7 linked regions of the Homo sapiens genome follow. The protein of the gene in region 4 purifies or fractionates together with the protein of the main gene of each other region. This does not show direct contact. Each region holds a gene or a part of one and is shown on either strand. Other genes may lie near its edges.

Evidence for each region.
Region 1: the proteins of ANKRD22 (region 4) and ITPR3 purify together in Homo sapiens (co-immunoprecipitation; one large-scale study listed by IntAct). This does not show direct contact.
Region 2: the proteins of ANKRD22 (region 4) and PKP2 purify together in Homo sapiens (co-immunoprecipitation; one large-scale study listed by IntAct). This does not show direct contact.
Region 3: the proteins of ANKRD22 (region 4) and UBE4B purify together in Homo sapiens (co-immunoprecipitation; one large-scale study listed by IntAct). This does not show direct contact.
Region 5: the proteins of ANKRD22 (region 4) and LAPTM4B purify together in Homo sapiens (co-immunoprecipitation; 2 studies listed by BioGRID and IntAct, with this or other methods). This does not show direct contact.
Region 6: the proteins of ANKRD22 (region 4) and PSME4 purify together in Homo sapiens (co-immunoprecipitation; one large-scale study listed by IntAct). This does not show direct contact.
Region 7: the proteins of ANKRD22 (region 4) and ESYT1 purify together in Homo sapiens (co-immunoprecipitation; 2 studies listed by BioGRID and IntAct, with this or other methods). This does not show direct contact.

The regions. Positions count from the first base shown.
Region 1 is NC_000006.12:33,682,954-33,687,321, reverse strand, and holds part of ITPR3 (inositol 1,4,5-trisphosphate-gated calcium channel ITPR3), read right to left. Parts: intron 4,116-4,368; coding exon 3,925-4,115; intron 3,303-3,924; coding exon 3,154-3,302; intron 2,966-3,153; coding exon 2,857-2,965; intron 2,725-2,856; coding exon 2,634-2,724; intron 2,549-2,633; coding exon 2,379-2,548; intron 1,964-2,378; coding exon 1,789-1,963; intron 1,680-1,788; coding exon 1,495-1,679; intron 1,270-1,494; coding exon 1,069-1,269; intron 914-1,068; coding exon 803-913; intron 314-802; coding exon 218-313; intron 97-217; coding exon 1-96.
Region 2 is NC_000012.12:32,886,317-32,890,684, forward strand, and holds part of PKP2 (plakophilin-2), read right to left. Parts: intron 1-4,368. UniProt on the Homo sapiens protein: A component of desmosome cell-cell junctions which are required for positive regulation of cellular adhesion.
Region 3 is NC_000001.11:10,098,507-10,102,874, reverse strand, and holds part of UBE4B (ubiquitin conjugation factor E4 B), read right to left. Parts: intron 4,284-4,368; exon of another isoform or gene 4,207-4,283; intron 1,768-4,206; coding exon 1,680-1,767; exon of another isoform or gene 1,669-1,679; coding exon of another isoform or gene 1,651-1,668; intron 1-1,650. UniProt on the Homo sapiens protein: Ubiquitin-protein ligase that probably functions as an E3 ligase in conjunction with specific E1 and E2 ligases. May also function as an E4 ligase mediating the assembly of polyubiquitin chains on substrates ubiquitinated by another E3 ubiquitin ligase.
Region 4 is NC_000010.11:88,823,787-88,828,154, forward strand, and holds part of ANKRD22 (ankyrin repeat domain-containing protein 22), read right to left. Parts: intron 2,330-4,368; coding exon 2,252-2,329; intron 1-2,251.
Region 5 is NC_000008.11:97,799,319-97,803,686, reverse strand, and holds part of LAPTM4B (lysosomal-associated transmembrane protein 4B), read right to left. Parts: intron 1-4,368. UniProt on the Homo sapiens protein: Required for optimal lysosomal function. Blocks EGF-stimulated EGFR intraluminal sorting and degradation.
Region 6 is NC_000002.12:53,922,199-53,926,566, reverse strand, and holds part of PSME4 (proteasome activator complex subunit 4), read left to right. Parts: intron 1-543; coding exon 544-608; intron 609-877; coding exon 878-1,028; intron 1,029-3,147; coding exon 3,148-3,246; intron 3,247-3,448; coding exon 3,449-3,518; intron 3,519-3,982; coding exon 3,983-4,050; intron 4,051-4,368. UniProt on the Homo sapiens protein: Associated component of the proteasome that specifically recognizes acetylated histones and promotes ATP- and ubiquitin-independent degradation of core histones during spermatogenesis and DNA damage response.
Region 7 is NC_000012.12:56,137,980-56,142,301, reverse strand, and holds part of ESYT1 (extended synaptotagmin-1), read right to left. Parts: intron 4,277-4,322; coding exon 4,228-4,276; intron 4,120-4,227; coding exon 4,030-4,119; intron 3,899-4,029; coding exon 3,803-3,898; intron 3,535-3,802; coding exon 3,463-3,534; intron 3,376-3,462; coding exon 3,289-3,375; intron 18-3,288; coding exon 1-17. UniProt on the Homo sapiens protein: Binds calcium (via the C2 domains) and translocates to sites of contact between the endoplasmic reticulum and the cell membrane in response to increased cytosolic calcium levels.

The sequences.
Region 1 (4,368 bases), on a different chromosome or scaffold from region 4:
CGCCAGGATATAGATGTTATGGCCCACTTCACGTGGGCTCACCTCCGAGTTCTCACGCTCTTCCTCCTGCAGGTAGGCCTTCTTGATGACGTCCACCTGGAGGGGCAGTGCCTGTTCCAATGCTCTCTTCCTAGGGCGGTAGGGCCAGCCGGGCCCTCATCCCCATCCCAACACACTCCACCTGGTTCCGCCCGCCTGCCCACCTGCCCAGCCTCACCAGCTCCTGGGGCCGCAGGCTGATGAGGATTCGCTCAGCATTTTCACTGTCATGCCGGCTCTCCATCAGAGCCAGGAGCAGCTTGGAGGCATTGTCCTGGGTGGAGGGGCAGAGGGAGGCAGGCCACAGTCTCAGGACACCATGCCCCTGACAACTTCTCCCTCATTCCTCTCCATAACAGCTCTCCCATCCAACAAAAGGTCAGGTGCCATGACCTTCCCATCCTCCCTCCCCCCGGCTTAATGAGAAGCATCCTGCACAGCCAGCCCACCCATAGGCTTGCCTTCACCCCCGCTGTGGCAAACACTCAGCTACCCAGACAGCAGACACACACATAGCAAGTCCTCAGCTAAACCAGAATATATTTGCATCCAGAGTGAGTGTATGTTCCAGCATGCTTAAACATGCGTATATTACACACACACCCTGCACACACCACACACTTGTGCATCCAGATGATGCCCCATCACACAATGCTAACACCCACATTACACACCACTATGTACACTTGACACACAAGTCACACATACATGCATGCACATCACATGCACACCCAGCACTCACACACCTGCCACTGGGCCCCACCTTGAGCTGCAGCACCAGATCCATGCGGTACTTGCACAGGGGGCTGATGTCATTGAGGATCAGTGCGGTGATGATGTCTATGCCATTGGACTCGTGAGTCACAATGCAAGTCTGGCAGGAGGCAGTGGGGGACACAGGGCCCAGGCCCTCTCAGAATAGTGGCAGCTCCAGAGACCTCAGCCTCTCTCCCTGCCCCAGCTGGCTCCATCTACCCACATGTCCACACTGCCACCCTGGCTGCCACTTATGCCACCAGGACAGCTCACCTGGTTCTCATGGCAGGGGCCCTGGCAGTACTCAGTGAGGGTCTCCAAGGTCTGGATGACGAGGCCCACGTTGTCCTCATTGATGTAGAGCCCCAGCAGCCCCAGGCCGCCCGTGGTGCTGCCGCACATGATGTCCAGGAACTGCAGCGTCTCGCATACCAAGTTGTAGTTGGTTTTGTTGTTCTGACAGCGCAGGAAGTTCTGCGGGGCACAGAAGGGTTGGGCACAGCACAGCTACAGCACGGAGAGGGAGGCTGGCCTGGGAAGCACGATCTTGTGTGCTGCAGGGGTAGGGGAACCACCAGCCACAAAGCAGCAGTGCCCAGGGCAGGGCACACCTGCCATAGAGGGACACCAGCCACACTGCCTAGTCTGCATGCCGGCTGGCCAGCGGGGGAAGGGGCAGGTGTGTGGCGAGGCACTCACCTGCAGGTCCCGGTTGTGGTTCTCACACAGCAGCTGCAGAAAGCGCAGGATGGGCTGCATGATGAGCACGGATGTGCCCATCTCACTGCTCTGCACACGTTCGCTCACCTCGTGCCCCCGGCGCAGGCTGGGGCCCAGCGAGTAGCGGGATGAGGAGCCAGGTATCGAGAAGGAGGCCACGCGGCCTGTGGGCGAGACCTGGTGAGGCTGGAGCTGCCCACCCCCTTGGCCACCCCCCTGCACATCTTATCCTGGGATCCCCGTCACGCCGTGCCTCTGCCTCAGACCCCTGACCTTTGGTGGTGGGGTCGACTGGCTCGCGGTCCTCATGTGGCTGGCTGCCCAGGTCATTCATGTTGACTGCCACCGTGGACTTGGTCTCCTGCTGGGCCCGCTTCATGCGGTCGTGCAGCACCTTGAAGAAGCGCTCTGACTTCTTGTCACTCATCATCAGGTTGTGGAAGGATTTCTGGAGGTGGACAGTGGCCAGGGAACAACCTCAGCACTGGGCCCTGCTCCTACTCAGGGCGTGGGGCAGGCACACCACACTGCTGGGGCCGCTGGGGCTGCAGGGGCCTGGCTGCAGGCCTGGGTGCTGGTGGCTAGCATCCATGGCCACCCATGGGCGGCTCCATGCCCCATATCTGCTCCTGTGTCACGTGGTCCTTTCATCACCCCCGCATACCCCTCTGCCCCAGCCAGGCCTGAGCCCGTCTCCTCACCACCCTGCCCCCATCATGCCCACTCTTCTCACCTCTCAGCCACTGCTCAGGCCTCTCCTCTTTCACACCCTCCTCGGCCTTCAGTGCCCAACTCAAGGCCCACCTCCTCCAAAAAGGGAGGGAGGCAAAGGAGGGCATGTCCAGGCCCCAGGCCCCCCACACCTGGATCTCTGTGTTGCCACCATCCAGCAGGTGGATGGCCAGGCCGATGCTCTCCTGGAAGATCTTCTCGTTCTTGGTGCTGGTGATGAGGTCGCATACCAACTTGGTGGCCCCCTCCTTGTCCAGCCGGCACTGGGTGGCTGCGATTGCCGACCAGTCTGGGTCCAGGCCTGGAGGCGGGACTCGGTTGAGGGAGAGCTGGTGTGACAGGAGAGTGGAAGGGAGGGCCCGGGGGCAGGGGAAGGTGATACTGACCAGTGCCTATGGGGTCGGGAAGGTCCCCCCGCGAGGTGGACTTCCGGTTCTGGAGGTAGTTTTGCAGCAGCATCTTGCGCAGCTGGTTGCCCTGGGGGAGGATGGGAGTGAGGCCCCATTGTGGGTACAGCCCACCACTGACCACTGGCCTGACGGGCTTGACCCTGAGCCCCTGGGTACTCCTGACTGGCCCACCCAGCACTTGCCCCACCAGGGCACTCACCCGGTCCCCGTACTTGGTCTTCTTGAGCAGCATCTGCTGCAGGGTCCGCAGCACCTTGATGCACAGCTTCTCCTCCGACTCCATGAGGTCCTTGGTGTGCTGGATCAGCCTGAGCCGGCCAAGGAGGCAGCTCAGGGCAGCCCCACACTGCCTCCCTCCAGCTACTTCCCCACCCCATCCCAGGCAGGAACACCCCCAGGCCCTCTGACCCAGTGAGCCTGTCTAGTCCCCACCGGGCCCTTCTCTGTCCCCTGCCGCTGCACCCCTGCTGCCCCCATGCCCCAGTGTCTCGCTCACTTGGACAGGAAGCCCCCACTCTCGCAGCGCTGGTAGGCCTCACTGCCCTCCAGGAAGAGCAGCTCAGGCCAGTGCAGGACATCCACCAGCACGGACAGCTCAGCCTGTACCAGGGGCTTCAGCCGCTCCTCCAGGGCTGTGATGATGTCCTGGGGTGGGCAGGGCAGAGTCATTGCCAGGCCCAAGAAATGACCCGGGTGTGACTGCCATTCCTCCGACCCAAACGCCAAACAGCCCCACAGATTGCCCTGCCTCTGTCTGAGGGGCCCACACCCACAGAGACACCCTGAACACAGCGTGATGTCTGTCTGCTCAGAGCCCTGGCTGGGAGCTGCCAAGCCTGGCTTCTCTCCCAGCTCTGTGTGACCTTGGGCAAACCCCTTAGCCTCTCTGAGCCTCAGTCTCCTGCCACGTGGGGAAAATAATCCACCACACCCCCTCTACAGGCCAACGAGACAGCGCACAGAAATGTGCTGCATAGACAGGAGGGCGCTGCAGGAGTGAGGGGTGGTCCCGACCCCCTCATGAGCTCCAACCCCACTAGCAGGCCTCTGGGTTCTCCAGGCTTCCTCTGGAAGGAGGTTCCCCAGTCCCTTGCTGCTGGGTCGGCCCTTAGCAGCCCCAGAGTGTAGAGAAGCCAACCAGCCCCTTCCTGGAAGTGTGGGCAGGACAGGAAGAAACACTCCCCGAGAACTTGCCCCTCCAAAGTAGGGGAGCTGCTGACTCAACCAAGCAGCTCCCGAGGCAGATGCCAGGCAGCCCCACACCCACCTGCAGCTTCTCAATGATGTTCTTGTAGTCCCACTGGTTGGCGGTGGGGGTGACGCGGGGGAAGGCCCGCGTGGTTGCCTTGTAGCTGGAGGCGTTCCGCTGGGCGGCAGCTGCACAGCTGGCTCCACTGCTGAGCATCGAGCTGATGTGGGCATCCAGGTCCATGGGCAGCAAGATGGCCCGGCCCTTGGCTGGGTGGGAAGGGAGGGAGTGCTGGAGTGCTGGTGCGGGGGCAGTTCAGCCAGCCAGAGGCCAGGCTCAGGGCTGCCACACCAGGAGACAGAGTGAACTAGACCAAGGGTCTGGGAGACAGAGACCCCCCCCACCCCGGCCTATGCTTGAGGGACTGAGAGGCTTTCTTCCCCTTGTTGGGTAAAAGGAGTTTCTGCCTCTTTGATTCCCCCCGGCTCTACCCTGACTTCCCCTTCCTCTCTCTCACCTGTC
Region 2 (4,368 bases), on a different chromosome or scaffold from region 4:
GACATGTTATTCCAGGTAAGACATGGGATCTTGCCACTTATTCAGAGGAATTTGTATAGCAATTCATATTTGAATGGATCCTTAAAGTCATTTACTAGCAATAGTAGGAGCTTAAAAGAAAGCAGAAAATATACTGAGACTCATCAAAGACCATACGTATGTCCGCACTCCTGAGTTGGTGAAGGAATTTTTTTTGTTTTTTGTCTGTCTGTGTTGGCATAAAACATACGATTCATTTCCTTGGACTTACATATTTTTTAAAACTATATTTTATCTTCTATTCTTACTTTCCAAGAAGAACAACCAGATATTGATGGAAATCACAACAGCCCAAGTAAGCATTTGCTTAGGCTGGAAAATAAGTAGAATTTGTTGGTTTAGAAAACTATAGTTGGCTGGGCAGGGTGGCTCACACTAGCAATCCTAGCACTTGGGGAGGCTGAGGTGGGTGGATCACTCGAGTCCAAGAGTTTGAGACCAGCCTGGGCAATATAGTGAGATCTCGTCTCTACAAAATTTTAAAAATTTAAAAATTAGCTGGGCATGGTGGCATGGGCCTGTAGTCCCAGCTACTTGGGAAGCTGAGGTGGGTGGATTGCTTGAGCCCTGGAGACAGAAGTTGCAGTTAGCTGAGGTTGGGCCACTGCACTCCAGGCTGGGTGACAGAAAGCAAGACTCTGTCTCAAAAAGGAAAAAAAAAAAGGGAACACTATGGTGAAAAATTGTTTCAAAGCAGATGAAAGTCTAATAAAGTTTTATACTATTGAAAATTTAACCAATAGTTGTACAGTGCTATATTTTGTGACCAGTTAGCTCACATAATCAACCATGAGAAACAACTTGGTGTATCAGGTATATGCTAGAAAGTACTGGCTATGAGTTCTTAAAACGTTGAATATGCCAGGGACAGAACAGCTCTCCTGCAAGAGTGGGCCACACATACCACATGCCAGTGTGCGACTGACTAATCCATTGCTGTTATCACTCACACGATATACCAGCCACTAGAGTCCTTATTTTTCAGGAGCCCCCTAAGCAATTCAAGAGCTATCTTCTGATATACCAATTTATGACATTTGGGGGGCAATCCTCAAATCACTGCTCTAGGTAATGACAAAAACACATTTTAAATGTCCCCCTCCCACTTTTTTTATTGAGATGGAGTCTTGCTCTGTCGCCCAGGCTGAAGTGCAGCGGTGCGATCTTGGCTCACTGAAACCTCTTCCTCTCAGGATCAAGCGATTCTTGTGCCTCAGCCTTCCGAGTAGCTGGACTACAGGTGTGTGCCACCATGCTGACTAATTTTTGTATTTTTAGTAGAGATGGGGTTTTGCCATGTTGGCCAGGCTGGCCTCAAACTCCTGGCCTCAAGAGTTCTACCCGCCTCGGGCTCCCAAAGTGCCAGCGCTTTAGGCGTGAGCCATTAAATGGCCCTTTTATATCACAGGTGTTCATGTCATATTTTGTTTGAGGTATTAGAATATGTAATTGTAGAATTTGTTATTATAAACTGGTAATTTAGCATCCTGGTGAAGTATTAAATAGAAATATCCTGGAAGTATCTAAATCTGTTCATTTCTCAGCCAGGCACGGTGGCTCATGCCTGTAATCCCAGCACTTTGGGAGGTCAAGGTGGGCAGATCACTTGAGTCCAGGAATTTGAGACCAGCCTGGGCAAAAAGGCAAAACCCCATCTGTACAAAAAAAATACAAAAATTAGCTGGGTGTGGTGGCGTACACCTGTAGTCCCAACTACTCAGGAGGCTGAGGTGAGAGAATGGCTTGAGCCCGGGGGGCAGAGGTTGCAGTGAGCCAAGATGCACTCCAGCCTGGGCAACAGAGACAGACGCTGTCTCATGAATGAATGAATGAATACACTGTTCATTTCTGTAACTGTGTCTTTACTTTGGCATTCCTGCCAATTATTTGCTGAGATATCTCATGAGACTTTAAGACTTGTAAGACTTTATAACTTCCATGGCAAATATCACATTATACTCCCAATAATATAAAAAAAGGTGAATTTATAGAACTCACAAATTATTTTTTGCTTTAAAATACTTACTACAGGTTTTCTTTGTAATGACTTTCAAGTCATTATATTTCCCCTGCCTCTCACGTGCCAGGGTTAACCCCTCCCAACTGATTCATAACTGCTAACCCAACTTTTCTTTTTCTTTTTTTTTTTTTGAGACAGATTTTCACTCTTGTTGCCCAGGCTGGAGTGCAATGGCACGATCTCGGCTCACCGCAACCTCCACTTCCCGGGTTCAAGTGATTCTCCTGCCTCAGCCTCCCAAGTAGCTGGGATTACAGGCATGCGCCACCACGCCCAGCTTATTTTTTCTGTACTTTTAGTAGAGACAGGGTTTCTCCATGTTGATCAGGCTAGTCTCAAACTCCCGACCTCAGATGATCCACCCGCCTCAGCCTCCCAAAGTGCTGGGATTACAGGCGTGAGCCACTGCGCCCGGCCTCTTTTTTTTTTTTTTTTGAGACAGGGTCACTCTGTTGCCCAGGCTGGCGTGCAGTGGTGCATTCAGAGCTCACTGCAGCCTTGAACTCCTGGCCTCAGGCGATTCTCCTGTCTCGGCCTCTCAAAGTGCTGGGATTACAGGAAAGAGCCACCATGCTAGGTCTGTTCCTACTTTAAATCCACCAAATCTGTCAAATGTATTTTCACAAAACTCCTGCACTTTTCATGTTTCTTCCCTGTGGAAATATCTGTGACTCACAATTATCAAATTCTTTAACTTGCATTCAAGATCAGAGGAGAGGGGTGAAGGAGGCTGCCTATAAGGGACACAACTGAACTAAGTTAACTGGGCAAGAGAAGGAAGGGAGGGAGACAAGGAGGGGTAGAAATACCAAGCAAGATAAACTGCCTGTGTGTGTTTGGTGGGGAGCAAGGGTAGTGGCCCCAGGGATGAAGTTTGAGAAGTTGCAGGCATTAGATCACGAAGAACTTGGAATGCTGTGTTCAATAATTTTACTCTTGCAGATAACAGTAAGAAACTGAAGGAATTTAAACTGGGAAATGATGCAATGAGATTTTAGAAAGTTCACTCTAGCAGCTGTGTGGAGAATGGATTGGAGTGGGGCCACGTTAAAACAAAGAGGTTATTTTCTCTTCCAAAGAGATTTTGACAGAAAGAACTGTATCTTACACTACCACTTCTAGCACAGTCTTGTATCAGTACTTGACAAGTTAATTGTTGATTAGTCAGATTACCTGTACATTAGAAATATCCTAGTTACACAAATTCAGTTTGCGCTTAATCATTCAGGCAGGTATGTATTCTGTGGCTCACCAGAATGGAACTAAAATGTGAGTATGATAGTCACATACATGCTTTTGTCTTGGGGTAGATGGAAGGTGCTCAAATAGTTTCGACTGTTCTCTGTCATTCTGGGTATACGGAGAGGAAGGAAAGTTGCTTCCCCAGAATGTAGGCAGACTTTTATTAGAAAAGCAGACTTTGGGCCAGGTGCAGTGGCTCATGCCTGTAATCCCAGCACTTTGGGAGGCCGAGGCGGGTGGATCGGTCAGGAGATCGAGACCATCCTGGCTAACATGGTGAAACTCCATCTCTACTAAAAATACAAAAATTAGCCGGGTGTGGTGGCACACACCTGTAATCCCACTTACTTGAGAGGCTGAGGCAGGAGAATCGCTTGAACCCGAGGAGACGGAGGTTGCAGTGAGCCGAGATTGTGCCACCGCACTCCAGCCTGGGCATAGAGCGAGACTCCATCTCAAAAAAAAAAAAAAAAAAAAAAAGAAAAGCTGACTTTGTTCATTTTGGCAAGGTTGTTTCTATATTTGAATAATATATGTTTACTATCATTCTTTTATCTGTATGGCTTGTGTATTTATCTGTAATATTTTGGTGGCCTATAAATTCATATTATCTGTCAAGAAAAGTTCCCATTTGTTTTCATTCTTCAATGAAAAAGAGTAATCAAGATCCAATAAGCTTGATGCTCACCCACACCCACCCCATAAATAGCTTACTGAGAGATTCAGAAAAAATAATCCATTAAGCTTCTAATGAAGGTTTTCATCCACAAATTCTGGAAATCAAGGAATTGCAGAACTTTGATTATGACTGCTTAGGTTAACGAATGTTATTAAGTCTAAAGCTGATTATTCCAAGAATATAAATATGTGAATTATTTTAATAGTAATGGCAGGTTGTGTTTTCAAATGCTTAAGTTTCTTTTTTTCCAACTGTCCATTTTTATTTAAATCTACATATTGAGCTCTCAAGCTTTTGTCTTTAAACACTTTAAGAACATTACAACTGTTTTTATGTCCAATATCCAATTACCAGAAATGGCATTATAGAAAAGATACACAGGCCGGGT
Region 3 (4,368 bases), on a different chromosome or scaffold from region 4:
ATTCTGATTTAATTCATTATTAGTGATGATATTTTAAAAATGCATGAAACCATTCACCCACTGATTAGGGGAAAAGTAAGCCTATTCCTATAACATCAAAGTTACAACATCTAAGTCTCATGAGCTTACAATACAATCTATGGGGAGCATAAAAGAGCAAAGATGGCCGGGCGTGGTGGCTCACACCTGTAATCCCAGCATTCTGGAAGGCCGAGGCCAGTGGATCACCTGAGGTCAGGAGCTCAAGACCAGCCTGGCCAACATGGTGAAACCCTGTCTCTACTAAAAATACAAAAATTAGCCAGGCGCGGTTGCGGGCCTGGCTACTCGGAGCTACTTGGGAGGCTGAGGCAGGAGAATCGCTTGAACCCAGGAGGCGGAGGTTGTGGTGAACCAAGATCACGCCATTGCACTCCAGCCTGGGCAACAGAGTGAGGCCCTGTCTCAAAAAAAAAAAAAAAAAAAAAAAAAAAAAAAAAAAAAGAGCAAAGTCATTATCAAAAGTCACCAAGGAAAAATATGTGACAGAGGATGTACATATCCTATCTATTTACTTTTCTGAATTCCATAGGACCAGGTTAACACTCCAGGTGCATGACCAATTTTCCTCCAGGAATTTTTCAAAATTGTAACATTTCTCATTACATACCACCACAGATAAAACAGCATATAAAAAAGAATTTTGTAAACATTAAAGAACTATACAAAATAAAGCACTGCACCACTAGGAGGCTACAGTGCAACTTCTTATTTTTTCCTTTGTTTGTCTTTATTTTTGTTTACAGTGCAACTTCCAATAATCATTAACATGTGTTGCTAAAGGATTCCTAATAATTTACTAAACAGAAAGTGATGTAATTATCTATATTAATACACACACACACACACACACACACACCCTAAATGCAGAGCACTAAGCTCAGGTGATATTCAAATATAAAGGCTTCATGTTTTCCAAAACCTTCTACTTGCGACTAGATTCTACATATTCTTGCTTCAATTCCCAGTCATTTTCCTCAGAATACTGCTAAAGATGTGATGATCTACTTGCTTAAAAGCAAAAGACCAGGCCAGGCGCAGTGGCTCACGCCTGTAATCCCACACTTTGGGAAGCCAAGGCAGGTGGATCATAAGGTCAATAGATCAAGACCATCCTGGCTAACACGGTGAAAACCCATCTCTACTAAAAATACAAAAAATTAGCTGGGCGTGGTGGCGGGCGCCTGTAGTCCCAGCTACTTGGGAAGCTGAGGCAGGAGAATGGTGTGAACCTGGGAGGCGGAGCTTGCAGTGAGCCGAGATCGCACCACTGCACTCCAGCCTGGGCGACAGAGCGAGACTCTGTCTCAAAAAAAAAAAAAAAAAAAAAAAAAAAAGCAAAAGACCAACAGAAAGAATTCTAATTTGCTCTAAATTAGTTCCTATTACAACCTAAATTTACTGATAAAATCATGGCCCTGAACCAAAAACAGATGGATATTATCAGATCAAAGGACTGAGTTACACTTTCATGAATAAGGGTAATCTAGGTTATTCATTTTTCCTCAAAAGAATAAAAATAATCACCTGCCTAGGACTTCCTGATTTCGGGTGGCCCCAATCTAACAGACTCTACAGATACAAGACATGAAATGTGTTTATTTCTATTACCTGTACCAAGGGCTTCATCGCTTACCAACCTTATCACTGAGGCTCCGCTTTTCTCTTCGATCATTTTCATCAACCTCCATGTTTTCAATTCCTGAATCCACATCCACCTGGGACATGCTTAAAGTACAAAAGACAAACAAGCCTTTTACCTTTTATAAATCCGCACAATGTCACTGTAGCTGCTGGGTGAGAAAATGTTTTAAAATATCAGTTAATCAGGAAAGGAAAATGATAATGGTCCATCTTTTTTCTTATTAATTTTTAAGAGTTCTTCATAAATTAGGATCTAAACAATTTGTCTCTTATACATGTTGGAAATATTTTTCCTAAGTTGTCATTTTCTTGGGCTTACTTTTTAAAAGTATATCATTGGCCGAGTGCAGTGGCTCACGCCTGTAATCCCAGCACTTTGGGAGGCCAAGGCAGGTGGATCACCTGAGGTCAGGAGTTCGAGATCAGCCTGACCAACATGGAGAAACCCCATCTCTACTAAAAATATAAAATTAGTCAGGCGTGGTGGCACATGCCTGTAATCCCAGCTACTCGGCAGGCTGATGCAGCAGAATCACTTGAACTCAGGACACAGAGGTTGCGGTAAGCCGAGATCGCACCATTGCACTCCAGCCTGGGCAACAAGAGCGAAACTCCGTCTCAAATAAATAAATAAATAAAAGTATATCATTAAAGTAGGTTACCTATATATAGTATTTTAAAATGACATAAAATTCAACCAGGCCAGGTATATTGGCATGCGCCTATGGTCCGAGCTACCTAGGAGGCTGAAGCTGGAGGATCACTTTAGCCCAGAAGTTTGAGGCTGTATGCACTATTACTGTGCCTGTGAATAACCACTGTATCCCAGCCTGGGCAGCATAGCAAGACTCTGGCTCTAAAAAAAATTAAATAAACATTTTTAAAAATTTAATTGAGAAAATAGGCCAGGCACGATGGCTCACACCTGTAATCCCAGCACTTTGGGAGGCCGAGGTGGGCGGATCACAAGGTCAGGAAATCGAGACCATCCTGGCTAACATGGTGAAACCCGTCTCTACTAAAAAATACAAAAAATTAGCCGGGCATGGTGGTGGGCACCTGTAGGCCCAGCTACTCAGGAGGCCGAGGCGGGAGAATGGCCTGAACCCGGGAGGCAGAGCTCGCAGTGAGCCAAGACTGCGCCACTGCACTCCAGCCTGGGCGACAGAGCGAGACTCCATCTCAAAAAAATAAAAAATAAAAATAAAAAATTTAATTAAGAAAATAAAAAACTCAACTGAAGTCTTATTATAAAAACTGGTTAAGTACATATCATTTATCCCCGATTGAACAATTGCCCTAGCACCATTTACTGGAAAGATCATCCTTTTTACATTAATATGAAAGCTCCTATGTCACGTGTCCAATTTTCATTAACGAGTGGGTCTATTTCTGGAGACTCATTACTGTTCTGTTAGACAATTTGTCTGTCCCTGGCCAATACCACTTTGTCTTAATTACTAAAACTTCACAAATCTTGATATCTGCTAGGTCAATGTCTCCACTTTATTCTTCTCCTTTAAGAGGTTTTGCTATCCTTGGCTCTTTCCTCTTCTACACATACTTAGGAATCAGCCTGAGGAATTCCTTAAAAACCCTCCCGGGATTTTGACCAAAATTTTTTTCACTCTTAGAGATCAACTTGGGGAGAAGTAATATATTACTGAGTTTTCATTACTCTCCAAGTATTAAGATCTTCTTTAAGGTCTATCAATAAGCTTTAGTAATTTTCTCTATAAAAATTTTATACTTCTTTTGCTAAATTTATTCCTAGGTACCATATGTTAATACTTTTTAATGAAATTGTGAATGGCACCTTTTTAAAAATTACGTTTTCTAACTTTTTGTTGCTGGCAGACAGGAATGCAACTGATTTTAAATATACACTTCTTATAAGCAACTTATTTATTTATACATAGAAAGTTTACATGTAAATAATTTTTTCTTTTTTAGACAGAGTCTTGCTCTGTCACCCAGGCTGTAGTGCAGTGGTGCAATCTTGGCTCACTGCAACCCCTGCCTCCCAGGTTCAAGCAATTCTCCTGCCTCAGCCTCCCAAATAACTGGGATTACAGGCACGCACCACCATGCCCGGCTAATTTTTTTTGTATTTTTAGTGGAAACAGGGTTTTACCATGTTGGCTAGGCTTGTCTCGAACTCCTGACCTCAAGTGATCTGTCTGCTTCGGCCTCCCAAAAGTGCTGGGATTACAGGTGTGAGCCACTGTGCCCAGCCAACATGTAAATAATTTATCTGCAAATTATTACTGTTGTTTCTTCCATTCCAATCCTTACTTGTTTTACTGCACTGCTAAATACAAGAAGAAATAGCAGTCATCCTTGTTCTTATTGCTGATTTTACAGAAAATGATGCTAACTTCTCACCACTGAATAGGAGAGTTGCTGTAGTTTTTTGGTAGATGCCCTTTATATTAGTTAGAGTAAGACAGGCTATACTGTAGTAACACATACACTCTGAAATCTTAAGAGGCTTAACACTGTAAGGATTTAGTTCTTGCTTACACAAAGTCTGATGAGAGTGAAGCATCCTTACTCCATCTTTAATCTATGCCATCTGCAATACACAGCCTCCAAGGTCACTGGAGCAAGAGAAGAGAGGGACGGAGGAGGAACATTGGCTCAACTGCCTTCATCTAAAAGTGACACGTCACTCTAGTTCATAGT
Region 4 (4,368 bases):
CACTGCGCTCCAGCCTGGGCGACAGAGCGAGACTCCGTCTCAAAAAAAAAAAAAAAAAAATTTCTTCTCTGTCTCAATGTATATGTATGTTAGTGTCATATAAGCCATCAATCTCTGCCTTTTTGTTTTCCATTTTCTGTTCTAAAGAATGCAACTTAAAAAAGCTGATGCTGAATTGTGCCAAAGTTTCTTTGTCGCATGCTATATGCCTCGGTGATCATCACCTTGATCATGTCACCATCTTTCCCTTAAAGAGTCTCCACATGGCCCTTTACATAAACATTATCCTCTATGGTTTTGGTGATGATTCCTACTGAAGAAGTCGGGTGCTCTTGCTGCAGGACACCTGCAAGATCAGTGCAGTTCTACAGAGACATTTCCCAAACGTGATTTGTTATAGCTTATATTATGTGTTATAAGCTAGTGCATCTACTCTGTTGGTACTAATTTAAAACACTACAGGTCAAAAAAATTATAGCTAGGGCATTAGTGTCCAAAATTTGGCCTTTGGAAAAGTAGCCAAGCAACCATGGTGCTGGTGAGTGAAGAAATAGTACCTTTGGCTATCAAGACAGGTTTAGCTCTGGATCCCATTCCCTAGAAACACCTCTAAAATTATAGGAGATCATGTTGCAATTATTTATTTTTATTAAGTGGTGGCATGACAAATGGAAGTTCTGGCTCTGAATTTTGTCATGTGAAATAGAGTCTAATTATCCAAAAATACAAAACACTGTCTTACCTAGAAAGTAGATTTTAATACTCAGATAGTTTTTGAAAAAATTTTGGTATTAGAAGTGGTGTCTGTGTGTGTACCTGCATGTGTCTCAAACTCCTGAGTTCAAGGGATCCTCCCATCTCAGCCTTCCAAGTAGCTGGGACTACAGGCTAGTGTCACTGTGCCTAGCTGAAGGAATGCAATATCTCTATCTAGAGAGAGAAATACACATAAATTGCTGAGAAAATATCCTAGAGAAATTTTGGTCACAGGCAGGAATATTAAATCTATTGAATTTAAATGAAAAGACCAAGAAAAACCTTCAACAAACTTTTAACTTCATCTTTAATAATCTCTTACTTAATATATTTCAAAGCTATCTAAAGAAATGGTAATGCACAGTAACTGTCAATACAAATTTATCCAAAAGTTCTATTTGAAATAAAAGGGAATATAAATTTCATAAAGTTATTTTCTTTTGCTCTCTCTCTCTCTCTCTCTCTCTCTCACACACACACACACACACACACACACACACAACTGCCTGCATTTAAACATGATACCAGCATAGGCAAAACCGAAATGATGTAAATAATTGATAGAAACAGGAATGGGGCCATGGTCTCTATCATAAAACAATGGTAATACACACAGATGTGCACACACGTAAAATATGTTAGGCATCACAAATAGAATGTTAGTATTTTGGAATCAAATTTCCACTTGCCTACTTTTTCAATAAGGAACTGGGAATCCAAAATTTTATTCAATCACCATAAGCAAAACACCATAGAAATAAACTTTTGTCTTTCTGTGATCATTGAGAAAGAAAGATGAGTGCAAGAGCACAGAGGTGAAAGTGAAAACAACACCTTATGCTCATAAACAGGAAGAAGTGAGCGGATGCTGCTACTGTTGTTATCACTGCTCTTACCATCAGTGGGATTTTTCTTTGACCTTTGTCTTATTTATCTGTAGTTTGCACACGGGGCCTCTCATCAGTGGGTTGGGATTTTGGCTGCAGTGGCAGCTGTTGCCATTCAATGAGCACTTACTACATTCTGAGCATGTGCTAAGTGCTTTACATGAACAAGCCCAATGAGATAAGTATTATCCATATCCCCATTTTACCGATGAGGACACTGAAAGTAAAATAAGTTTACAACTTGCTCAAACTCATAGAAGTAAAAAGTGGCAAGCCCAGAGTTTACTCATGGGCATTCTCACTCCAGCTTCTTAACTATTATGGCTGGTATTTTGTTATCGGAGCCTTAGTTTTCCTTAACGTCTCAACAACATTAAAGCCAATTATTTTAAAAATGCTTTATAATCAATAGAGGTATTATTCCCATGAGTTCAGCAGAATATAAATAACCTCAAGGTTGCCTGTCAGTGGGAAAAAAAAGGAGAAAATAAAAGAAAACTAAATGTAAAATTGTCTAGGAAAATAAAGCAACTGTACAGATGACAAATACGCTACCTACAAATACCATTTTGAATATTTTTTCAAAATGGCTAAAAGTATAAACTTACACAATCTGTAGCATTAACTTCGACGCCAGCATCAAGTAGCATTCGTACAAGAGCCTCATTCTGCTTTGTCTTTGATACCTATTACAAATGGTAATTATAAGAAAGGCTTATTTACAAATAGTTTCTCCAATTTATGCCTGAGACTATTTAATCAATAGGCTTCATTTTAATCCCAACACTCCTATGCATGCATGCACCCTTCCTAAAATTTCCCCCAGCTTCTCACTCACTCTAATATCAATTAATTAAAGCCAGGTTCTCAGACTGTGGTCCTGAAGTAGCGGCACTGACACCTAAGAACCTTAGAAATGTACTTCTCAGGTCCCACCCCAAACCTACCTAATTCCACTGAGGATGGGGCCTAGTACCTGTCTTTCCCTTCCTGGCTCAAAGCTGTGCAATTACTTCCCATTGCTCTGAGGACAAAAGTAAACTCTTCAGCATGACCTACAAAGCCCCGTATGTTTTGGCTCCACGTATGGCCCTGCCCTGGCCTCTCTCTCACTCTGCGCCTCCTGGCTCACTCTGTTCTACTTACATTGGCCTTTGTTAATCTTTCATTCTCAGAGAATCATTGCACAGGAAGTTCCTTCTGCCTAGAAGCCTCCTCCCTCTCTTCTTTGCCTGGCATATTCACCTTTCATTCATCAGCCCAAGTCCCTCTTTCTCTAAGAAGCTTTCCCTGACCCACCTGACCAGGTGAAATCCCTCTTTTTTAGCTATCCTAACACCAGTCGCCTTTCTGTATCACCCGCTTTATGGTAATTTTACATGTGTTTGTGCCATTTGATTAATGACTCTCCCCACCACCCTCTAACTCTCATGGGGTAAAAAACTATGCCTATTTTGTTCATCATTGTGTCCCTAACAGCTAGCACAGCGTCTGGCACATAGTAGGTCCATAATAAACATACGTTAAAGAATTGAACAAATTAATGAAATGAACTAGGACTCCTCAGAAATTCACTTTTCCTTCCCAGTCTCCTGAGCTTCTGACCACAAGCCTGTTGGAGTCTTCCCCAACTTCCAGTCTCCTGAAGAGGCAAAGCTCTCCCTGCTCAGCTGGGTATAGCCCTGGAGTTCAACCCTGTCATCACCTGGGAAGCTCCATCCAGTTCTCTCTCCTTAGGCTTCCCTCTTGTGTCACCTCCTAAACTGCCTTTCTCTGCCTACTTTTCTCTGAAATAACCCAATGCTTTCCTCTCTCCTCCCCTATCATTTCCTCTCATGTCACTTATTTGTTAATTCATCACAAATTTACAACTTTAGGCCCCATTAATAAATTGCACGTGCATGAAACTAGAGTTGAGCTATTCATTACGATTACTATTTTTGCCCAGTCCTCCAGCCTCTAAACATTGAACCATCTTAGAAAGCAGAGTTGTGTGTCAATAAATTCTGAATGAGCCTTCTAATCACAGTTGTAATTTTTACCTTTAGAATCTCTAAAAATGTTTGTAAATAAATAACAGATTCTCCCTGCCCCCAAAATACATGTATTTAAATGCTATGTGCTAAATACATAATGAATTTTTAAAGAATTCTTCGAGGATATGAGCAGATTATATTTTTATTAGTGAATTAAAGTTCTTTTCTCTCTCCTATAAATCCAAATATAAAAATCAACATTGTCATGTTTAATTATAGTTCCTCAAATTCTGTGGCATTTAAATACCCAATGAAATAATAACATTTTTGACGGGCAGACTTGTTCTGCGGCTGATGTTAACAGGTGTAACCAATATTCACAGTTTATGAGCTACAACAAGGAGGGAGCTTGGTCATTTAATTAAAGTAAATTATGCATCTCTTGAGTCATGTCTGAGAAGTGGAACTGGGCACAAAGGAAACTAGATGGATAAAAGTGAGTAAGTCAGTGCAGATCTGTTACCCTATTGGGAAAAAAAACCAAAAACCATCTCAAGCTTCATCTTCTACTCCTCATATGACTGCATCTCTATACCAACTACATCTTTCTTTATTCAAGAAAATTGCTGTCTGCCAAGATTCATCCAAGCATGAAGAAATTCATCAAGGTGAAAATGGGCTTAAATTCTCAACAAGTATCTTCTGTGTGTGTCAGCTTCTGGATGCAAACTTTTAGGATCTGTTTTTCA
Region 5 (4,368 bases), on a different chromosome or scaffold from region 4:
ACATAGTAAGACCTTCCCTCAAAACCAAATAAACAAAAATCCACATACTTGGAAATACCTGTTTAAAGGAAGTGTAAATGTTTTACAGAACATCCATTCAAGAGTTTATTTTTGGCCCGGCACGGTGGCTCACACCTGTAATCCCACCACTTTGGGAAGCCAAGGTGGGTGGATTACTTGAGATTAGGAGTTCGAGACCAGCCTGGCCAACATGGTGAAACCCTATTTCTTAAAATGCAAATTAGTTGGGCATGGTGGTGGATGCCTGTAATCCCAGCTATTCAGGAGGCTGAGGCAGGAGAATCACTTCAACCAGGGAGGCAGAGGTTCCAGTGAGCTGAGATCGTGCCACTGCCCTCCAGCCTGGGTGAAAGAGTGAGACCCTGTCTCAGGGGAAGAAAAAAAAAAGTTCATTTTTAAATGACAATCCCAATTGGTTATTTCAGGATTATTGTAGGATTCGAAGTAACTTTTTTTCTTTTTTTTTTGAGACGGAGTCTCACTCTGTCACCCAGGCTGGAGTGTAGTGGCACGATCTCGGCTCACTACAACCTCCACCTGCCAGGTTCAAGCGATTCTCCTGCCTCAGCCTCTCGAGTAGCTGGGGTTACAAGTGCCTGCCACCACACCCGGCTAATTTTTGTATTTTTAGTAGAGATGGGGTTTCACCGTCTTGGTCAGGCTGGTCTTGAACTCCTGATCTCGTGATCCACCCGCCTCGGCCTCCCAAAGTGCTAGGATTATAGGCGTGAGGCACCGTGCCTGGCCGGAATAACTTTTTTTCTTCCTGTATTTTCCAAATTGTCAAATAAAAGCTGATTGCTTTTCGAAAAAAATTGTAATAATGAGAAGAGCCACTTCCCAGAGTATACATATACATATAACTAATTTAAACAGATACTACAAGCATGTGTTTAACCAAACACCTGAACTGTACAAAGAATATATAGTGAAAAGTTACCTTCTCCGTCAAAGGCATCTGAACCAAAGCGACTCCATTATGAACAGGGGCTTGGTAAAATGTGGCTAAGACCCACTGGGCTGCACTTCCAGGAGGTTAGGCCTTCTAAGTCACAGGATGAGATAGGAGGTCGGTGCAAGGTACAGGTCGCAAAGACCATGCCGATAAAACAGGTGATGGTAAAGACGCCGGCCAAAACCCATCAAAACCAAGATGGTGACAAAAGTGAGCTCTGGCTGTCCTTATTTCTCATTATGCACTAGTTATAATACATTAGCATGCATGCTAAAAGACACTCCCACCAGCGCCATGACAATTTACAAATGCCATGGCAACGTCAGGTAGTTACCCTATATGGCCTGAAATGGGGAGGAACTCTCATTTCCGGGAATTGCCCACCCCTTTCCTGGAAAACTCATGAATAATCCACCCCTTGTTTAGCATATAATGAATAAATAATTATAGTATTATCAGTCGAGCAGTCCAAGCTACTGCTCTGCCTATGGAGTAACCATTCTTTTGTTTCTTTACTTAATAAACTTACACTCACTTTACTCTATGGACTCAATCTGAATTATTTCTTGCACGAGGTCCAAGAACCCTCTCTTGGGGTCTGGATCCCCTTTCCAGTGACATCTCCACAGTAATTATTATAACAGTATCTTGTTTCTCTCCAAAGATCCAAGAAATTTCATAGCACATTTTAAACAGTGTGATTAACAAAACTATCTGAAGAAAACTTTCTGTTACAACTCCAAGGCTTAAAGGAGCCACAGGCCAGTCCCACAACTGGCATTAAGATTTATGGCAAAGATGTTATTTGATAAACTGTCAAGTTTTCTTGGCATTTCAATCCCTCTATACTTTTTTTTTTTTTTTTTTGAGATGGAGTTTCGCACTGTCGCCCAGGCTGGAGTGCAGTGGCGCAAGCTCGGCTCACCGCAACCTCCACCACCCAGGTTCAAGTGATTCTCCCGCCTCAGTAGGAGCCTGTAGCTGCGATTACAGACACCTGCCACCACACCTGGCTAATTTTTTGTATTTTTATTAGAGACAGCGTTTCACCATATTAGCCAGGCTGGTCTCAAGTGATCCGCCTGCCTCAGACTCCCAAAGTGCTGGGATTACAGGTGTGAGCCACTGCACCCAACTCTTCTATACTCTTATTTTTGAGAAAAGGTATGTGGAAAATTGTGGACTGAAATAGGATCAAACGAAATAAGAAGAATGTGCTTTGAAAAATTATGAAGAGCTGGGCATGGTGGCCTGTAATCCTAGCACTTTAGGAGGCCGAGGCAGATGGATCACCTGAGGTCAGGAGTTTGAGACCAGTTTGGCCAACGTGGTGAAACCCCATCTCTGCTAAAAATAGAAAAATTAGCTGGACATGTTAGTGTGTGCCTGTAATCCCAGCTGCTCCGGAGGCCAAGGCAGGAGAATCGCTTGAACCCAGTGGGGGGCGGAGATGGCAGTGAGCTGAGATGGCACCATTGCACTCCAGCCTGGGCAACAAGAGCGAAACTCCATCTCAAAAAAAAAAAAAAAAGTATGAAGAACCACACAAGGGCAATGTACTCCATTATTGTTATCATAACAGGGTAGGGTTTTAAAGCTGAAATGAAAAAACATAAATTTGGGATTCATGGGCAAAAAGCTTTAGAGGAGGGAGCAGAGGTAAGGAGCTGGTCAGAGAAGATGGAAAGGTGAGGAAGTCGTACAGTGTGAGTCTGGGGTCCCGTAGGGCTACTTATGGAGTCTTGTTTTGTTTTTTTTAATTAGAGATGGGGTGTGTCACTATGTTGCCCAGACTGGTCTTGAACTCTCAGGCTCAAGTGATCCTCCTGCCCCGGCCTCCCGAAGTCCTGGGATTAAATGCGCGAGCCACCACCTGACTTTGTATTTTATTCTAAGTGTAACAAGAAGTCAACGGGGCTGGGCACAGTGGCTCATGCCTGTAATCCTAGCACTTTGGGAGGCCAAGGCGGGCAGATCACCATAAGTCAGGAGTTTAAGATGAGCCTGACCAACATGAAGAAACCCCGTCTCCACTAAAAATACAAAATTAGCCGGGCATGGTGGTGCATGCCTGTAATCCCAGCTACTCCGGAAGCTGAGGCAGGAGAATTGCTTGAACCCGGGAGGCGGAGGTTACCGTGAGCCGAGATTGCATCGTTGCACTCTAGCCTGGGCAACAAAAGCGAAAACTCCATCTCCAAAAAAAAAAAAAAAAAAAAAAAAAAAGAGGTCAAGGGGTAATATTACAGAAGGGAAGAATGTCATCTGGCCAGAGTTCAAATGAGTGAATATACATAAAATACCTAGACCGGTGACTGGCATACAATAGCCACTCAAATTAGTTATCTTACCTCTTCACATCTTAACAAGAACCATGTTAAAAGCTCTTGGTTACTAGTTTTCTAGATCTTCTAAAGCCAGTGTTAAGACACCTGCTTTACGCCTGTGCTTTCCCCGCACTCTCAGTCCCTAGGGACCTGTCAACTCTTAATCCGCTTATTATTCCCCCGTGGAGTCTACTGATCATATATAGCTACTAATTGCCTACAACACATATTTGCTAAGTGCTTAGGAAGAACTCCCTAGGACTCAGAACATGAAGTTAAATACATCATGTACCCAAAAAACAAAAAGCATAAAGCAATGAATGTGACAAGAGCTCCGAGAAAGAATCATGGAAGTTAAGGAGAGTTACAGTCAGGGGTTGCAGGGACCTGCAACAGAGATGGGAGCATTTGAACAGGAACTCAAAAGATGAAGATTTGGAGCCTGAGAGGTGTGGAAAAGAACAATTCCAAGTATGAGCAATGCCACTGAGACAAGGACATCTCCTCAAGACAGCAAGTTCAATGTGGCTGGAACGCCAGGGTCAGGGGGTATAAAAGGAAATGTTAGAGGATAGAACCAAAAATGTAGGATGGGGCCAGGTGGTGAAGAGGCCTCGAAACTAGGACAGGAATTCTAATAGTTAATGAAAATGCCATAAAGGTTTTGAGGAAGGATATGACATGATCAGAGCTATGTTGTTAGAAAGAACAAACTGGCAGAAGTGGGAAGGCTAAATTAGAGGCAGGAATCCAATCTGGTGTCAAATAAAAATTATAGGCGGCCATTGTTGCAGATTGAGCTCCTGCACAATAGGGCCTCAACATACTAGACTACAAACCAAAATGCAGTCACCGTGCTCAGGTTCAGATAACCTGAAGTCACCTGATGCTAACCATGTTATTTTTGTATTGTTCTGTCTTCCTGCCCCTGCCTTAAAAGAAAAGTCCCTTTGAAACGACTCATCTGCTTTTAGTTCTTTGTTTCTGGTTTCTTCAGCCCATTTCTCTCTAAAAAGCCAAGCTCCTCTGCTTAGCTCACAGGATACTCTATTTTATGAGATGAAG
Region 6 (4,368 bases), on a different chromosome or scaffold from region 4:
TGGGATTACAGGCGTGTGCCAACATGCCTGGCTAATTGTGTATATGTGTATTTTTAGTAGCGATGGGGTTTTGCCATGTTGGCCAGACTGGTCTTGAACTCTTGACCTCAAGTGATTCGCTTGCCTCGGCCTCCCAAAGTGCTAGGATTACAGGCATGAGCCACAGTGTCTGGCTAGCTACCGTGCCCAGTCGCGAGCATGTTATTGTTTATATTTTTCTGGACATTCAGGTAGTGAGAGACTAGACTTTGCAAAAATCAGCAGTTTGAAAACTGAATTTATAATAAAGATAGCTGCTTGACTTCTGTATTTGGCCCTTGTAAAATAACATTAATTTCTTCTTTCTTTGGTTCCTAGAAAGTAGTAGATGAAGTTGTTCTAAATTGAAAGTAGTAGATGAAGTCTAGCATGGTGCTGTTTCTCATAGTACCCAATATAATGGTTTAGTGTGGATACATTTGGCAGGCAATAATTGAGTTTTGTTAGTTCAGGAAAAAAAAACAAAGGCTATATGTAATCTTTCTCCATATTGGGATATTATAGGTGGAACGAGAACTTTGTTCAGCCACAGCTGAATTTGAGGATTTCGTCTTACAGTTTATGGACAGGTGAGCTTGTAACCCACACCAACGTTTAGCTGAAATTCTAGAAAATGACTCTTCTATCCCAGAAAGTTTAGTTTATTTCTGCATTATAACCTTTATTTAGCTACTACTGGTGCTCCTGAAGTTATAAAAGGATAATCGATTTGTGAACCACGTAGAAATTAAGTAGCTATCACTTGAATAATTAGGACAATAGAGAGTTACCTGATGACCACCAAAAATGTCAAACCAGATTTTAGTTGCTGAAATTATGCTTTGTTTGGATTATTTAGATGTTTTGGACTTATAGAAAGTAGCACATTGGAGCAAACAAGAGAAGAGACAGAAACTGAGAAAATGACACACTTGGAGAGTTTGGTCGAATTAGGTCTGTCTTCTACGTTTAGTACAATCCTCACCCAATGTTCCAAAGAAATATTTATGGTAAGAACATTGCTGCAAAAAATAAACTTCCAGCTTTTAAGTTTCATTTGATGTTTTAAAATTGACTTCAAGTTACTTTGTGTATATCATGCAGTTTATCATTTACATTCATACTAAAGTTTTAAAGAAATGTACAGTTGCTCATTATTTGCAAATTTCGTATTTGCAAATTTACCTGTTTGCTCTAACTATTTGCAACCTGAGAATCAAGCTTTTGCGACTGACAAAAATTCAGTTACTTAAATTTGATCTCACATATGCCATGTGTTCTCAGCTGAGAGCAAACGAGGCACTCTGCCGTCTTATATCCAGCTCCACTTAAACAACTGTCCCCTTTGCGATCTATTTAATGCCACTTTTTTACATTTTTTTGCTTCTTATTGGTGATTCTGCTGTTTAAAAATGTCAAAAATGGCTCCCAAGAGTTTATTGTTTAAAGTGGTTGAGGGTTCCTAAGCATAAGAGAGTTGTGCTGTGCCTAATGGAAAAAACACTGTGCTAGGTAAGCGTCAACAGGCATGAGTTATGTTGCTGTTGACTGCGGATTAAATGTTAGTGAATCAACAATATGTATTAAATAAGTTGTCTGTAAACAGAATCACACTTAGGATTATGTATTGATCAGTTGATGAAAATGTTGTCACCATAGGTTCACAGGAACATAATCCTGTATTTCCCCTGGGAGCAATGGTTCAGTATTTGCTAGTTCAGTGGTCACAGCAAATTTATAGAACATGACTACCATGAACAACAAGAAACAACTGTCGCAGGGGGGATAGCATTAGGAGAGATACCTAATGTAAGTGACGAGTTAATGGGTGCAGCACAGGAACATGGCACATGTATACATATGTAACAAACCTGCATGTTGTGCACATGTACCCTAGAACTTAAAGTATAATAAATAAAAAAAAGAAACAACTGTATTTTTTAATTTTACAATTAAAAACAGTTACTCAGCTGAGTTTTAGAAATTGCTTATGACATCACTCCCATGATAGAAATTAAATCCTAAGACTAACTGATGGATTAGAAGTAGTTATCTTCATAAGACATTCAGTAAGCATTCACTAATTCAATATTGGTTGGTACCTATTATTTGTAATGTGGTACCTATTATCTGTAGCCTTTAAGACTACACTTTATTTTCATTTCTGTTTCTTCTCCCATCATCTGTAATTATCACTGTTAAATATGTTAATCCTAGAAGCCAAACTGCCTTATAGCTGTGTGAAATAAATACTATGATTATGTTAGTATAAAGAAATGAACACAAATCATCTCTTATTTAACCAAAAAGAGTTGTTTATACTTTTCAGTATTGTTAACCCAGGTATAGAACTCATTCTTCCATTGAGCAAGTAAATTAAAGTTTTGTGACATGACTGTAAAATAAACAGACTGCTTCAGTTCTTTTAGGGTAAGGATAGATGTCTAGTTTGTAGTTGTCAGGATGACAAATTGTATTAGGTATTCCAAAAAATTCCCTTTGTTATATTCAATTAGCCAGAAAGACAATTAAATTGCATTTGCTTCCACCAGGTATAATTTTATGTGTAGGGTTTCTGTGGCAAGTGAAATCTTGTACCTCAATTTTTTTTTTTTTTTTTTTTTTTTTTTTTTTTGTTAACTCTGTCACCTGGGCTGGAGTGCAGTGTCGCGATCTCGGCTCACTGCAACCTCCACCTCCCGGGTTCAAGCAATTCGCATGCCTCAGCCTCCCGAGCAGCTGGGACTACAGGCATGCGCCACCATGCCTGGTCAATTTTTGCATTTTTAGTGGAGACAGGGTTTCGCCATGTTGGCCAGGCTGGTCTTGAGCTCCTGATGTCAAGTGATGCTCCTGCCTCAGCCTCCCAAAGTGCTAAAATTACAGGTGTGAGCCACCACATCCAGCCAGTACCTAAAATATTTTGTTCAAGTTAGGATCGTGGGCAAAGATTGTTCTTAGACCTGAATGTAACATCATTAAACAAATTCTTATAAAATCAGATGGTTAAAAATTGCCTATGGGCTTATTTTTGGAATTGTCTAAATATATTTATCATTTTCTTTTATGTTCTGTAAGATGTTTAATTTTCTTAAAAAATGCTCATTAAACATTTTCATATCTTAACAGGTGGCCCTTCAGAAGGTTTTTAATTTTTCTACTTCACATATATTTGAAACAAGAGTAGCAGGTCGCATGGTGGCAGACATGTGCCGCGCTGCTGTAAAGGTGAGTTTATTTTTTTGAACTGATGTATTAATGACTCAACAATCAACTAGTTTATATGGTTAATTATTAGAGGTGCTTCTATGCTTAAAATGCATAGTTCTTTCAGTAGCTGCTTATTTACAGCCTTTTACTGCCACTGAAAATATAATCTTGTATATATTTGCCTTTCAAAAAAGCCTTACTTATACAAATACATTTTCAGTGCTGCCCAGAAGAATCTTTGAAGCTCTTTGTTCCCCACTGCTGCAGTGTTATAACTCAGCTTACAATGAGTAAGTCATAAGGTCATTATTCTCTCTTTACAATTTTGGATAAGTTTTTTTCTTGGTTTCTAAAACTCTGTTAATGACAACAGATTCCTTTAGCTTCACAATATTTTGATTGGCAATTTGGGGAAAATTTGTCTCCAAAAAAGATATCATCCAGGTTGGCAGTAGCTTAAAAATGTTACTTTATTAATATTCTTATACAACCACCATTCAGAGGTTACCTTCAAAAATATCAGTTATTTTGTGAGATATAGAGGGGCAGAAGTCTTGGTTGGTGTGTTTATTTTCTTGAAAATTCTGTTTCTACCTCCTTTTGGAACAAGCTCAGCTTCATGAAGAAGAAATAAAAAGTCTTCCTAAAAGAGGTTTTCCTCAGCTATTGGAAATATTAAATAGAAGTATTTTAAAATGCTATATTTAGTTGAATGCATAGGTTTTTCCCCCTAATAGTATTTTGCTGTTTTTAGATGATGATGTATTAAATGATGAAGAGCTAGACAAGGAATTACTATGGAATCTTCAACTTTTGTCTGAGGTATTGTAAATCTTTGGAATAAGAAACATGACTGTGAAAACACTGACTTGCTTTTAGGATTTAGCTCTTTCTGACAAAATGACTTTAAAACATATGAAAAGTCAGAGTTTTGGAAATTTGATGAGGCTTCAGAAGATCAGAATATGTCATACTCTTATTGTCAAAGGAGTGGTGTAGTTGATCACTGCATGTTCAGCCATCTACTTAGTTTTACCAGTTAATTCTAATATGGGTAACTCATTAATTGAAAAAGTTGATCAGATTTGGGAATTTTTTTGGTCTACACTTTAAATTTGGCCATCAATCAAACTTCAGTTT
Region 7 (4,322 bases), on a different chromosome or scaffold from region 4:
GTGCCCTCACCCCGAACCTGTGGGGCAACAGGACCATGATCAAGAGGCGAATGCATCAACAAATGAGTTAATCCTGGTGTTTTAAAGGTCCAAACGCTTGGACTCATAGGTGGTTTGGTGAGATTTCCCTTTGAGAAAGGCAGGGAAGCCATGGTAACAGTTGCTAGTCCCTCCCTCTGTCCTTCCTTCCTTTTTTTTTTTTTTGAGACAGAGTTTCGCTCTTGTTGCCCAGGCTGGAGTGCATGGCGTGATCTGGTCTCACCGCAACCTCCGCCTCCCAGGTTCAAGCGATTCTCCTGCCTCAACCTCCTGAGTAGCTGGGATTACAGGCACCTGCCACCACGCCCAGCCAATTTTGTATTTTTAGTAGAGCTGGGGTTTCTCCATGTTGGTCAGGCTGGTCTCAAACTCCCAACCTCAGGTGATCCACCCACCTCAGCCTCCCAAATTGCTAGGATTACAGGTGTGAGCCACTGTGTCTGGCCTGTCCTTCCTTTCTTAACCAGAGTAGAGTGGACCATCTTTACCTCATAAACTTTCAGAAATTATTATTATTATTTTTGAGACGGAGTCTCGCTCTGTTGCCCAGGCTGGAGTGCAGTGGCGCAATCTCAGCTCACTGCAAGCTCCGCCTCCTGGGTTCACGCCATTCTCCTGCCTCAGCCTCCCAAGTAGCTGGGACTACAGGTGTCCGCCACCACACCCGGCTAATTTTTTGTATTTTTAATAGAGACAGGGTTTCACCGTGTTAGCCAGGATGGTCTCGATCTCCTGACCTTGTGATCTGCCCGCCTTGGCCTCCCAAAGTGCTGGGATTACAGGCGTGAGCCACCGCGCCCAACCTAGCTTTCAGAAATTATACCAGTAATACCTACAGCATACAGAAAACAACAGTAAAAACAGAACTAAAAGTAAATGTTTCTTGCCCATCCTACTCCTATTGCCATATTCCAAATGTAACAACCTTTAAAACCCTCCTGTTTTCTTTGTTCTCACGGAATTCTAATATGCTTGTATCTATTGATTCCCTGCTATAAAAGATGAAGAACTGAGCTCATTTGTACCTCCTTTCTACTCTGCTAGCATTAAGTTACATTATTTTAAATTCTATTAATTTCAGCCGGGCACAGTGGTTCACACCTGTAAGATGGCTCATGGCCATCTTTTGTCTCCTCACTCTCCACGCTGCCTAAGAGATCTCACCCATGACTACACTTATGAGTGGTTGCTTGCTCATGATGTTCCAATAAGAGGGCAAGGGAGGAACACCTCATGGACAATAGATTTGTTTTCTGCATGTCTTCTCTTGGATGTCCTGCAGAGATCTCAAATTCCAAAATTCCCTCTCTGTGCACTCCCTAAGTCAGCAACGGCACCCTTATCCATCTAGCCACCCTGTGCCAAAAACCCCAGAGTTAGTGTCTAGGCTGTTCCTTGCTCCTCCACCTGCTCCATATCACAGCAATCTTCAAATCCCATCAGGCTTTAGTCGTTTCCTGCTTTGACTGCTCTAACAGTCTCCTCACTGATCTCCCTGCCCCCAGTGTTGTCCCTCTCCAGTCCATTCTTTACCCTCTTATCCCTATGATCTTCCCAAAATGCAAATCTGGATATGTGACCTCTCATTAAAGGCTTCCCTGACTGGGTGTGGTGGCTGACGCCTGTAATTCCAGCACTTTGGGAGGCCGAGGCAGTGGATCACTTGAGGTCAGGACTTAGAGACCAGCCTGACCAACATGGTGAAACCCCGTCTCTCTTAAAAATACAAAAATTAGCTGGGCGTGGTGGCGGGCACCTATAATCCCATCTACTCGGGAGGCTGAGGCAGGAGAATCGATTGAACCCAGGAGGGAGGTTGCAGTGAGCTGAGATCGTATCACTGTACTCCAGCCTGGGCAACAGAGCAAGACTCTGTTTCAAAAAAATAATAAATAAAATAAACAAAGGCTTCCCTAAGCCTTAGGATAAAATCCATATTTCTAGCATACTATTCAACAGCTCCTATGATCTTGCTCTGCCTGCCTCTCTGATCTATAATAAATATGCCTTCTCTCTCCTCCATTTTTTTTCTCAGCCTAAAGAGTTTTCCTGCTCTTCTTTTCGTGGTCCGAAAGAACCAGTAAATCTACCCTTAGGCTGGGGCGCGGTTCTCACGCTTGTAATCCCAGCACTTTGGGATGCCGAGGCGGGCAGAATGCTTGAGTCCAGGAGTTCGAGACCAGCCTGGATGACATGGTAAAACCTCATCTCCACAAAAAAATACAAAAATTAGCTAGGTGTGGTAGTGTGCACCTGTTATCCCAGCTGAGGTAGGAGGATTGCTAGAGCCCAAGAGTTGAGGCTGTAGTGAGCCCTGATTGCACCACGGCACTCCAGCCTGGGCGACAGAGTAAGACCCTGTCTAAAAAAAAAAAGGCCGGGTGCAGTGGCTCACACCTATAATCCCAGCACTTTGGGAGGCTGAGGTGGATGGATAACCTGAGGTCAGGAGTTCAAGACCAGCCTGGCCAACATGGCAAAACCCCGTCTCTACTAAAAATTGGTGGGGTATGGTGGCACGCGCATGTAATCCCAGGTACGCGGGAGGCTGAGGCAGGAGAATCGCTTGAACCTGGAAGGCTGAGGTTGCAGTGAGCTGAGATTGCGCCACTGCACTCTAGCCTGGGCAATAAGAGTGAGACTCTAGTCTCAAAAAAAAAAAAAAAAAATCTACCCTCAAGCTCAGGGGTCATCTAAGGATGCCTTTCTATCTCCAGCCTTTCCCCAGCCTGAACCCTTCCTTTCTTCCCCACAGTGCCTTTTACCTCAGTTATCATTCTGAAAGTTTCATCTGGTTATTTTTCTCCCAAAACAGAGTGTGAGCTCCATAAAGATAAGAAGTCAATCTTTTGGCCGGGTGCGGTGGCTCACACCTGTATTTCCAGCACTTTGGGAGGCCGAGGTGGGCGGATCACCTGAGGTCAGGAGTTCGAGACCAGCCTGGCTAACATGGTGAAACTCCATCTCTACTAAAAAAAATGCAAAAATTAGCCAGGTGTGGTGGCGGGCACCTGTAGTCCCAGCTACTTGGGAGGCTGAGGCAGGAGAATGGTGTGAACCCAGGAGGCGGAGCTTGCAGTGAGCCAAGATAGCACCACTGCACTCCAGCCTGGGCGACAGAGCAAGACTCTGTCTCAAAAAAAAAAAAAAAAGTCAACCTTTTATCTCATCTCTGAATGCTCTGTGCCTGGTTTCCTGCCTGGCCATGGCAGAAATCTGCTAAATATTTGAAGAATGAATTTACAGTACCTGCAACTCTAGGCTCTCAGTGTGTGGTTTCCTGATGAGAAAGGAGGCACTCTCATCCCAGACAGGGGCTGAAGTTTGCGAAATAGTCTGGTGGAGATGAGGGCTTATGATCAGTAGCTGATACTCTTATTTCTCTTATCCCTCCCATTTTTACCCTGCAGCATTTCTTCATACCTTGGTTTTATGAGAACTATCTCCCACAGTGAGAGTAGCATAAGGGCTGAGGTGCTTGGTGCCTTTTCGCAGCTAGAAAGACAATACTGTGTTAGTCTTAAATTTGGACCTAGTTAGGCAGATCCCCCTCACAAATTATATCCACAGCCAGCAGCCATGTCTCCATTATTACTTGGCAGCCACTACCCGTGGCCTTGAACAGACAACTTTTCCCACCCCTGCACTACCCTCAGAAAGAGAGGGGCCATTTTTCTTATTCTAAATACTCCAGGACCATCCAAACCGGAGGAAGGTGGAAGAAGGGCCAGGAAGTTATGGGGCATGGGGAGCGGGATCTCACCGGGAGGTCCTCTGCCCGCTCCATATAGATGGATAGCAGGGCCGCAGCCAGCTCCGCACTCTTCTGAGTCTGGATCAAACTATTCACCTGCAGCACCTGTGGAGGGGCACACGGGGCTGGGGAGTGGTAACTGACACCTTGGGTTCTGGCATGTGCCTTGAACGCTAAGAGAAGAGCTCATCCTGCCCCACCTTGGGTCCCTTCCTTCCTCAAGTCTCCTGCCCTACCTCCTCTAACTCAGCAGCAGTGGGACGGGGGGTGAGACGCTCCAGGCGCAAGTGCAGGCGGCCAGATGGGACATCCTCCAGGGTCAGCCACTGTGGAAGTAGGCAGGGTGAAGACTTGGGGATATGCAGACAGGAGAACTTTGAGAATGAAGCTTGGGCAGGATCAGGAGGGGTTGTTGACTCTAATTCAATGCTCACCTCATCAAGGAAGCCACTGTTTAAGACTGTGGTGAGACGCACTTTACACCTGTTGAAGAGAAAGATTAAGACAAAAGCTAGATGGTGAGAACCAA